2 separate regions of the Homo sapiens genome follow, and region 1 is linked to region 2. A link means that fine-mapping ties the variant in region 2 to the expression of a gene that starts in the linked region. Tissue or cell type: whole blood. Region 2 holds a variant in brackets; the other region holds the start of a gene. All regions are shown on one strand. Distances are from middle to middle. Region 1 holds the start of LITAF (lipopolysaccharide induced TNF factor). Region 2 has its middle 27 kb from the start of LITAF.

Region 1 (5,480 bases), 27 kb after region 2:
CTGAGCTCAGGAGGTCAAGGCTGCAGTGAGCTGTGATCGAGCCACTGTACTGCAGCCTGGGTGACAGAGACCCTGTCTCGAAAAAAAAAAAAAAAAAAAAGCAACTGATTTTTGTATGTTAATCTTAAATCCCACAACTTTGCTGAACTGGTTTATTAGCTCTAATAGGTATTTAGTACATTCTTTAGGGTTCTTACATATAGGATCATATCACCTGTGAATAGAGATAGCTTCACTTTATCCTTTTCAATCTGGATGCTTTTATTTTTCTTGCCTAATGGCAATGGCCAGAACCTCCAGGACAATGTTGGACAGAGGTGGCCAGAGTGGGCACTTTGGCTTGTTCCTGTTCTTAGGGGTAAAACTTCCAGTCTTTTACCATTAAGTGTGTCATTAGCTCTGGGATTTTCATAGAAGCCCTAAGGTTGAGGAAGTTCCCTTCTATTTCTAGTTTATTATTATTTTTTTAATCATGAAAGCATTATTGGATTTCTTCAAATGCTTTTTCCGTCTATTGAGATGATCACGTGGCCCAGTTTACTTTTACCCCCTGGTTGGAAGCCTTGGGTTGGAAATTCAATCTCTGTGGTTTTTTGGGGATCAAAGAAAAGAGTTACAGTCTTATAGCTCTCCCCATAAATAATTGCAAGCTCACAGCCGTGGTAAGTGTTTAGGATGGATAAAAACACAAAGCTGGCTCCTGTTGCTGCTCAGCAGTTGGGGAAAGAAAAACAAATGAAGATGTGGTAGTATTCAGTAAAGGACAGAAGAAAATTCAGGCTTACTACTGCTTTTTACAGGAAGGAAGGGAGGAAGCGAGGAAGGGAGGAAAGGAGGAAGGGAGGAAGGAAGGAAGGAAGGAAGGAGAAAAGGTTGGGAGGGAGGGAGAGACAGAAAGGAAGGAAGGAAGAAAAGCATTCATACAGGGATGTTTCTTGAACGTTATCTCTGAGAGATTTTCCCTAGGTGTTATGTCTCCCTAGCAATGGTCTGTGATATTCTGTCTTAATGTCAGTATAATAATTGGTACCTTTGCAAGCCTTGGTTGCATCCTGAGAATGGAGGAATGGCAGAGGTTGGGTGTAATCCAATTTCCTGTTCTTCTCTTCTCCCTCCCTCCCTCCCTTCCTTCTTTCCTTCTCTTTCTTTTCCCTTTCTTTCTTTCTCTTTCTTTCTTCTTTTTCTTTCTTTTTTTTTTCTTTCTCTTTTCCCTCTTTCCCTCTTTCTTTCTTTGTTGCTTGCTTGCTACAGTGCAGTGGCTCGATTATAGCTCACTACAGCCTCAACCTCCGGAGGTCAAGGAATCCTCCCACCTCAGCCTCCTGAGTAGCTGGCACATGCCACCACTCCACCGCTTTATTATTATTCTTTTAATTAAAAAAATTTTTATAGAGATGGAGTCTCACTATGTTGTCCAGCCTGGCCTTGAACTCCTGGGCTCAAGAGATCCTCTGGCCATGGCCTCCCAAAGTCCTGAGACTATAGGCAAGAGCCACTGCACCCGCCCCCTTCATATTTTAAAAGCAGTAAAATGTTGCCCACACTAATAACATCTACATGGGAACCTCCTATGCTTGGGAGAACTTTGAAATCCCTTCCAACTTGGTAACTCGTCCACGGCTGAGGGTGGCCCGTCAGTGGACATGGCGCAAGGTGGCAAGAACTTGGGGCTGGGGACACTTTGCTGAGGGACCCGGGACAAGCCACACTCCCTATCTGGGCCTCACTATCTTTAGGACCTCGGGTAAAGGCATGGGATTTGGGCACCGGAGGGTTCTAAGATCCAGGTCTTTGCCAGCATGGGGCTCGGAAGCTCCCTGTCCAAATGGCGTTTGTTTGTGGATGGCCACATCATGGTTCTGCCCATCTCCTGACTCTGTGTACTCTGAAAGCCAGGCATGCTTCTTAATTCCCTCTAATGATTTCCCAGAGAGCCTGCTGGATCCAGGCTGCTGCTGTTATCACTGCAGCCGGCCGATGGGGCTCCAAGCAGACGGGCAGATGGCACCCATTTAGGGGCGGATGTGAAATGGGGCTACTGATTTCCAGAGCTTGCTTTCAGTGATGGCTGAGAAAGGCCTACCTGGCGGCACGGACCACCCTGGGGGCACAAAGCGGACAGGCAGCTGATAAGCCTTACCTAATACCTATCCTGTGCTAAAAACTTTACCATCTTCCCAGTTCACTCCCAGTCGGTCTTAGGAGACAGGACCGCTATTGTGCCCATTTTGCAGACAGGAAGCCGAGCTCAGAGAGGATGGGTAACATGCCCGAAGGCACAGAGAGTGTCTTGGTCTGTCCGGACGCGTCTGTAGAGTTACAGGAAGAGAAGGGCCGCCCTCCAGAGGGCCGGGAGCGCCCCAGCGCGGGTCCGGGGTCGAGGTTGGTGGTCCCGCCGCCTGGAAGTGGTGGAGCGGCGCGGGGAGGGGGGAAAGTGGGGAGAGCCGCGAGCGGCAAATCAGGAGGGAGGGCCAGGCTGTCGGGGGCGGACGGGTGGGGCTGGCACCGAGAGGCAGGGGCAGGATAGGAGAGTGGGGGAGACACCAGGTCCGCGCCAGGCGTCTCGGGGGTAAGCCTGGGAAGCTCTGGGGTGGCGAGCGAGCCGGGTGTGGGATGGAGCCTGGGGGCGATCAGAGTGAGGCGGGGAACCGGCGGTGGTCTCGCCTGGGGCCCAGGTGCGGGCCGCGGGGGCGGGAGAAGCCGGAAGCCCAAGCCGGCCGCGCTCCGCCCCGGCGGGTCCAGCCCCCGCCCCCGTCCCCGCCGCCCGGCCCTTTTCTCGGGGCGCCCGAGAGGCCAGCTCAGACCTCCCGGCTCGACAGGCGGCGCGGGCGGCGGTGAGTGCGGCGCGGGGACGCCGGGGCGCGGGGACCAGCGGGAGACAGCGGGGGGCCGGTGGCGCCAGCACCTGCTGGGGGCCCCGGGCACTGAGCCCTTGGCTGGGGCCTCCTGGGATGCCAGGGGGCGCGGGTCGGGTCGCGGGCATCGAGGCGCGGCGGAGGGCGTGGGGGCCCGGCCGGGGCGGGGTCCGGCCTCCCAGCGCTGGTCCCGGCCGCGTCTCCGGTTGGGTTCAGCTCCTGCGTCCCAGAGTGGCCCGATCGCGCGTGGCGGGGTCGTCCGGCCCCCACCCGAACGAGCGCCCTTCGCGGCCCGCCGCGTCCCCCTCCCCGGAGAGGACGGCCCCTGGGCTTTTTAGAAAAAGGCGCGATTCTCTCTAGTGACTCAGGTTGAGATTTCCAGAAATATCCCCCGGGGGTTCAGAAACAAAACCAAAACAAACAAAAAAACCCCAACGAATTCCCAAATGCTATTTGCCAAACATTTGACTTCTAGGGGCGCGGGTACCCGCGTTTCTCTCCCTGCCCCCGCGACTTCGCGCAAGATCCGGGAAGGACACCCGAGGCCCCTGGGAGACCCTGGGGAGGTGAAAATCAGAGAGCGAAGCGGGCCGTGGCCCCTAGGCCTGACCCCTCCCCGCGGGGTAAGGCGGGCACCCCGCGAGCGCAGGGGTCCTCTTACTGCTGATGGCACCCAGCTCTGGGCCCAGACGCCGCTCACCGTCCACCGCCGGTGCTGGGTAGGTGCTGGTGGGACCAGCTGGTGACTGGTGGCAGAAGTGGATCTCGCCCCTCCCTGCCAAGCTAGGCAAATACCCTCCCCGCTCTGGTTTGCAGGTCACTGTGGATAGGTGGTCAGTTGGTGGTGTGCCCGAAGCTCTTCGGGGTCAGGGAGAGGAGGTGATAGGGGAAAGGTGTATGTTCTGGAAGGGCCAGTCATGCTTCAGGGACCAGGCTAGTTGGACCTTCACTGGTTTTCTACTTCCCGACAGTGGAGCTGATGTCACTGGCTGTTGGACTGAGCAGTGGTCACTGGGAAATCTACAGTTTGTGGAAGCCACGGGGTCTTCCAAGCTCCTACCAGTCTTCCCAAAGAGGATGCCTCCCTCCCCTTGGCCTGGTGCACTGGTGCTGGTTCAAAGACTGTCTGAAGCCCAGCTTGGGGTCCTCTTTAGGAAAGCCATGATTTGCCTTAATGTGTGCTTGGCTGCTTCATCTGCCCTCTCACCCCCTGCCTTCTCAGAGTGACTCTTTTTAGGACTTCCTATTTAGGACTAACCCAGATGCCTACAGAGAGAAGTGCAGGCTGGTATCTGGAATTCCACCAGTGTTTTGGTTTTATCAGTTGGAGCAGGATCTAGATGGCGTGTGACTTGCTTTACCTGGCATAGAGTAACACCCATATTGCACTTGGCTTTCTTCTCCACCAGCCCTTGCTCTGGGAACTAAATGTGCACCAAACTCTCTAAGAAACATTTAATTGTAATCTACCATGAGGGAGGCCCATCTCCCTCTTTCCTGTTACTTTAAGGCATGAATAATTGATGCATTTATTCACATTTGAGAAAGTATCTTGTAATGTTTTCACAGATTAAGTGACTGGGTGATTGATCTAAGACGTAGGATCAATTTCTTTCTTTTTTTTTTTTTTTTTTGAGACAGAGTCTCACTGTCGCCTAGGCTGGAGTGCAGTGGTGCGATCTCGGCTCACTGCAACCTCTAACCCTCCCCACCCCACCTCAACCCCCTGCCTGAGTTCAAGCAATTCTAGTGTCTCAACCTCCCAAGTAGCGGGGATTACAGTTGGGTGCCACCATGCTTAGGTAATTTTTGCATTTTTAGTAGAGACAGAGTTTTGCCATGTTGGCCAGGCTGTTTTCGAACTTCTGACCTCTAGTGATCCACCTGCCTTGGCCTCCCAAAATGCTGGGATTACAGGTGTGAACTACCTCACCCGGCCCATTTCTTAAGTCTCTAAAATAGTAGATTGAAGTGTAATTCACTGTCTTTGGGGAATACATTTCCCTTTGTTACTTCCGTTCCTTTTATGGGCGGGCTGTTGAGAAATAAAGCGCTACCCTTGCCGTGTAAAGGATGCAGAAGAATGGCTCCTGGTCCTGAGGGGTTTACGCAATGGGTAGAAAGTAGAAACACACACCGGCGAAAAAGCTGGTGCTTGCTAATGCCCTTGTAACTCCAGAAAGGGCTTGAGAACAGTGGAAAGGAGGCAGCTAAGTTAGAGAAAGTTTCATGGAAAAACTGAGGCCTGAGCACATGTGGCAGAAGGAACATGAGGACATAGTTCAGACAAACAGGAGGGTCTCAGTAGAGCTGTGGAAGAGGTACAGACAAGCCCAGGTGGTTGAAGACAGTAAATGGAAAATCCACTGAGAGGAAGGAGCTGGAAGGCGTTTCCAGCCCAAGTTAATTTTCAAGAAAATAAACAGTGCATATTTTGCTGACATTACCCATCCTCACTGCTCAGAGGTGTATAATAGCACTTTGAGAATGGGCTGGTGCCGTTTTGTGACTTAAACTTCTCCCACTGAATAGGAATTTCCCCAGAGCTACAGTGAGGGTGGAAAAAAGAGGATCTGCAAGAGGAAGTCCTGTATTCTTGGCACTGTGACTTGTCCTCTATTTGTT
Region 2 (5,247 bases):
ACTCCTGACCTCAGGTGATCTGCCTGCCTCGGCCTCCCAAAGTGTTGGGATTACAGATGTGAGCCACTGCGCCCTGCTGGCATCTTTTTTTTTTTTTTTTTTTTGAGATAGAGTCTTGCTCTCTTTCCCAGGTTGGAGTTAAGTAGCTCAGTCACAGCTCACTGCAGCCTCAACCTCTTGGGCTCAGGTGATCCTCCTGCCTCAGCCTCCTGAGTAGTTGGGACCACACGTGTGCACCACTATGCCCGGTAAATTTTTAAGAATTTTTGTAGAGATGGGGTCTTCCTATGTTGCCCACTCCGGGCATCTTTTGATGTTTATGATCATCTGACTGTAAGGGATTTGTGTTCAAAGGCCAGAGGGTAGCCTGTGATATTGTGATACAATAGGAAATATGTATTTGGTCTTTGCCTCACGTACCTGACAGAGCTTCTAAGGTCCTCGTAATTTCCTGAGTGGCAAAGATGAGAGGTACATCTTTTGTTATTCATCATAAGCCCCTTTCTTTTTCTTTTTTTTTTTCTTGTTTTGTTTTGTTGAGACAGGGTCTCACCCTGTCACCCATGGCTGGAGTGCAGTGGCACAATCGTAGCTCACTGCAGCCTCAACCTCCTAGCCTCAAGCAATCCTCCCACCTCAGCCTTCTGAGTAGCTGGGAACACAGTCACGTGCTACCATGCCTGGCTAATTTAATAAAAAATTTTTTTAGAGATGGGGTCTTGCCATGTTGCCCAGGCTGGTCTCAAATCCCTGGCTTCAAGGGATCTGCCTGCTTCAGCCTCCCAAAACATTGGGATTCCAGGTGGGAGCCACGGTGTCCAGCACTATTCCAGTTTATTATAAAAGATACAAACAGCCAGATGCACAGGAGCATAGGGTGGGGTCTGGAAGGGCCCTGAATGTAGGGCCACTGTCCCCGTGGAGTTGGGGTGCCCCACCTCCCAGGTAGTGGATGTATTTGGCAACCTGAACGCTCCCAGAAACCTATCTAGTGGTTCTTATCAAGGTTTCGTGACGTAGGCATAATTGATTAAATCATGGCCATTGGTGATTGGACCCAACTCCTAGTCCCTCTCCCCTCCCCAGAGGTGAGGAGTGGGTGAACTGAACCTTCTAACCCTCTAAGCATTCCAAAGCTATCTAGGTACCCCCACACTGAGTCATCTTGAGTCATCCCATTAGCATACGAAAGATACTCTAATCACTGAGGAGGGTCCAAGGGCTTTGGCAGCTCTGTGCCAGGAACCAGTGACAGGGAACAAAGACCAAGCAGATACTTTTTATTATACCACATAGGTCTTCACTTTTCTTTTTTTATTATTTTATTTTAGTTATTTATTTATTTTTAAAGACATAGTCTCACTCTGTCTCCCAGGCTGGAGTGCAGTGGTGCAATCTCGGTTCACTGCAACCTCCACCTCCTGAGTAGCTGGGATTACAGGCATGCACCACCACACCTGGCTATTTATTTATTTATTGAGACGGAGTTTCACTCTTTTTGCCCCGGCTGCAGTGCAATGGTGTGATCTCGGCTCACCGCAACCTCCACCTCCCAGGTTCAAGCGATTCTCCTGCCTCAGCCTCCTGAGTAGGTGGGATTACAGGCATGCACCACCATGCCAGGCTAATTTTTGTATTTTTAGTAGAGACGGGGTTTCGCCATGTTGACCAGGCTGGTCTTGAACTCCTGACCTCAGGTGATCCACCTGCCTCAGCCTCCCAAGGTGCTGGGATTACAGGCGTGAGCCACCGCACCCAAGGTCTTTACTTTTCCTCTGAGTTGTTGCCCATGCCATTTACACCCCAGGGTAGATGGGGCTCTGGGTGTCGCTTTTCTTCCTGGGATCTCTGTTCTTTCCTCAGCCACTGTCCCCTGGGACTTTCCTGCCTCGTTTTCTCCTAGAGCCCCAGCTTGGTCTCTCCTTCCTTCCTTTGTTCATTCATTCATTCTCCCAGTGTGTACCGACTGGTCATCCACCCCGTGCCAGCTGCTGGGCTGGGTGCTGGAGAAGCAGCTGTGAGTGAGGCACTCAGACCCGGCCCCATCTGACAGCGGGCCACAGGGTCCTGGAAGCCATGCATTCGCTGTCATGACAATCACTGAACTGACTCCCTGCCGTTAGAACTGCCTGCCGTCTAGAACAGAGCTGGTCCAGCTGCAGGGTAATGCATGCCACTGGGCAAGTTTAAATTTTCTAGTAGGCATATCAGAGGAAGTAAGAAGATATTTGTAACAGCTGAAAGGTGAAAACAGTCCGGGCACACTGATTCATACTTGTGATTCCAGCACTCTGGAAGGCCAAGATGGGAGGATCTCGAGCCCTGGAGGTGGAGGTTGCAGTGAGCTGAAGTTGTGCCATTGCATTCCAGTCTGGGTGACAGAGTAAGACCCCATCTTAAAAAAAAACCAGAAAAAGCCTGGGCACAGTGGCTCATGCCTGTAATCCCAGCACTTTGGGAGGCCAAGGCAGGCAGGTCACTTGAGGTCAGGAGTTCGAGACCAGCCTGGCCAACATGGTGAAACCCCATCTCTACTAAAAATACAAAAATTAGCCGGGCCTGGTGGTGTGTGCCTATAATCCCAGCTACTTGGGAGGCTGAGGCAGGAAAATTGCTTGAACCTGGGAGGTGGAGGTTGCAGTGAGCCAAGATTGTGCCACTGCACTCCAGCCTGGGTGACAGAGTGAGACTCTGTCTCAAGAAAAAAAAAAAAAAAAGAAAAGAAAAAGAAAGAAGAGGAAAGAAGAAGGAGAAGGAGAAGGAGAAGGCCTCCAGAAGGACCAGCCCGCTGACATCTTGATTTCAGACTTCTAGCCTCCAGAACTGTGACAATCAGTTTCTGTTGTTTTAAGCCACCTAGTTTGTGGTCATTTGTCACAGCATCCGTAGGAGGGAGAAAGGAGAGTGAGAGAGACTAGGACATCCTTCTGAGCCTGCACAAGCCTCAGCTGCCCCGTCTGTACAATGGGCACAACGGCTCCACTGTTGACTGGTGTTGCTGGGAATGAATGAGTCATGTGCAAGTGTCCAAATCTCAGGACCTGCCAGGAAGCAGAGGGACCCCACAGAACACAGG[C/T]GTTGATCTCAACTGTCAGTTCCGTTTTAGAGATAAGGAAATAAACATTCAGCGAGAGAAGTGGCCCGCCCGGTCATCTGACAACATGTGGCAGGGTGAGGCCGGCTCTCGGAGTACAGATCCTCATTTCTGAGATGTCCTTTCTGTCTGGGCTTTGCCCCAGCCACCTCTGTGCCCTCGGTTCCACCAGTGTGAACTGCCTAGCCGGCACACGCCACACCCTCCGTCCGGCTGTGCTCCCTGTAAGGACACCTTTCCTGCTCCTCTCCCACCTAACTCTGGCTTAGCCTTCAACAAGAGCCACTTCCTCCTGGAAGCCTTCCCTGACTGCCCTCACCCTCTGGGAGCTTTCATAGGAGCCCAGTTTGAATCAGCAGGGGCCCCACCCTCCAGGAGTTGTCCGTTCTAGGGAAGATTGTGAATCACCGATGTCTTCGAGGTGGGGCAGGTCTAAACAGGCGGAACAACACACTCTGGCACCTCAGACCCAGCTGTGTCTGAATTGCCCAGATGGTCAGGAGAAGGCAGCCCTGGGACCTGGCAGCTGGCTGCATTGCTTATTCCCCCAGGTGACCCAGGAGGTCTGGTCTCTCTGTCAATGCGAGTGTCCCGTCTCTCTCCATCCCATGGGGATCCAGAAGTGGAAACAAAAACTAGAGTGATCTTGAGGTCAGGCGTTCGAGACCAGCCTGGTCAACATGGTGAAACCCCATCTCTACTAAAAATACAAAAACTAGCCAGGCGTGGTGGTAGGTGCCTGTAGTCCCAGCTACTCGGGAGGATGAGGCAGGAGAATCGCTTGAACCCAGGAGATGGAGGTTACAGTGAGTCGACATTGTACCACTGCACTCCAGCCTGGGCAACAGAGCGAAACTCCATCTAAAACAAACCCCAAAAAACAAATAAAAAAAAATCCAAAGAAAAACCTAGAGTGAAGCACCTGAATGGCTGGCCTTGCCCATCAAGAGGCACCCAGGCCATCGGCTGTGCCCCAAGATGACAGCTTTTGCAGGGTTGGGAGGTCAAGATTCTAGGGGGACACAGGGTTCCCACAAGTCTTCAGGAGCCATGGGAGTCCCTGAGATGGTGCCCAAGAGCTTCTGGTGTAACCAAGCTTGGTTCCACAGTGAAATCATTCCCCAAGAGGGCGGACTCATCCTCCAAACATCTCTTTTCAGTCTGTCCTCGTCCCTCCGCCCTTCTCAAGGACGTGGACAAACAGAGATGTCAGGGGAGAATGGGGTGGGGAAGTGGGTGGCCAGTTCTGGGCTGGGAGTGGGGTGGGAAGGTCTGCTGTCTCTGCGAGGGCTCCTGCCTGGGCCTTGTTAACTTTCCATCCAGGTTCTCTGTGCACGTGAGCGTCCTGAGCTGGGCCGGCCCTGGCCGCCCGCTGGCCGCATGCAGTGCAGTTTGCTCTAACCGCAGGTGACCCACACGAGGTCAGACAGCCGTTCCCACAGAAACCTGCTGGGAGTTGCCCAATAAGGCCCTTCCTTCCTCATTCTTCACCTGCCTTCCAGAGAGCCCAGGCCAAGCCAGGGAGGGAGACACCTCTTCACCAACCCTCCAGGCTGCCCCCCAGGTGGCCCCTTTTCACAAGAATGATGAGGACGGTGCAGCCAAAGCCTGCTGCGGCTCCCAGGAGTCACAGAGTCCCTGGGCTGGGAAATGACCTGGTCTGACTCACTGGAGAGACCCCCGTTTTAGATCTGGGCTGAGCAAACCTGGCACATGGTTGGCTGTCCTGAGCTTTGGCGGTGTGGGCAGTGCCAGGAGATCCTTGGACTTTGAGACCCTGTTTCCACCCTCTCAGTGACATGGCTGTGTGGGCACCCACATAACCCTCTTTGCCAGGCGAGTGGTGATTTCCGAGCCCCGAGGGGAAGAAGGAAGAAGGAAGCCATTAAGTTGCGTTGGATGGGGGTTGTTGTCACACTCCATATCCTGTGGGACCCCACAACAGTCGAAATGGGAGGGCCAGGCGCAGCGGCTCACACCTGTCATCCCAGCACTTTGGGAGGCCGAGGTGGGCGAATCACCTGAGGTCAGGAGTTTGAGACCAGCCTGGACAACATGGTGAAACCCTGTTTCTACTAAAAATACAAAAAAACTATCCAGGCATGGTGGCGCACACCTGTAATCCCAGCTACTCAGGAGGCTGAGGCAGGAGA

What was found. PIP is the estimated chance that this variant, and not a neighbour inherited with it, causes the effect.
Region 1: LITAF starts here. The variant in region 2 is fine-mapped to the expression of LITAF in whole blood (TOPMed, PIP above 0.99). The same link has a PIP of 0.9 or more in blood mononuclear cells and monocytes.

The regions. Positions count from the first base shown.
Region 1 is chr16:11,584,240-11,589,719 of GRCh38, reverse strand. It overlaps LITAF (lipopolysaccharide induced TNF factor), which reads left to right and starts at 2,801. Exons shown (of 4, transcript NM_001136472.2): 1 at 2,801-2,834. RefSeq lists silencers at 2,448-2,927, 2,958-3,037 and an enhancer at 3,938-4,047.
Region 2 is chr16:11,611,769-11,617,015 of GRCh38, reverse strand. It overlaps a transcript of LITAF not described here. Among named protein-coding and RNA genes, the nearest start is that of LITAF, 27 kb to the right of the region's middle. RefSeq lists a silencer at 1,833-2,006 and enhancers at 1,470-2,077, 2,078-2,685, 2,821-3,030, 2,929-3,223, 3,191-3,240. The variant C/T (reference allele first, on the strand shown) is at 3,077.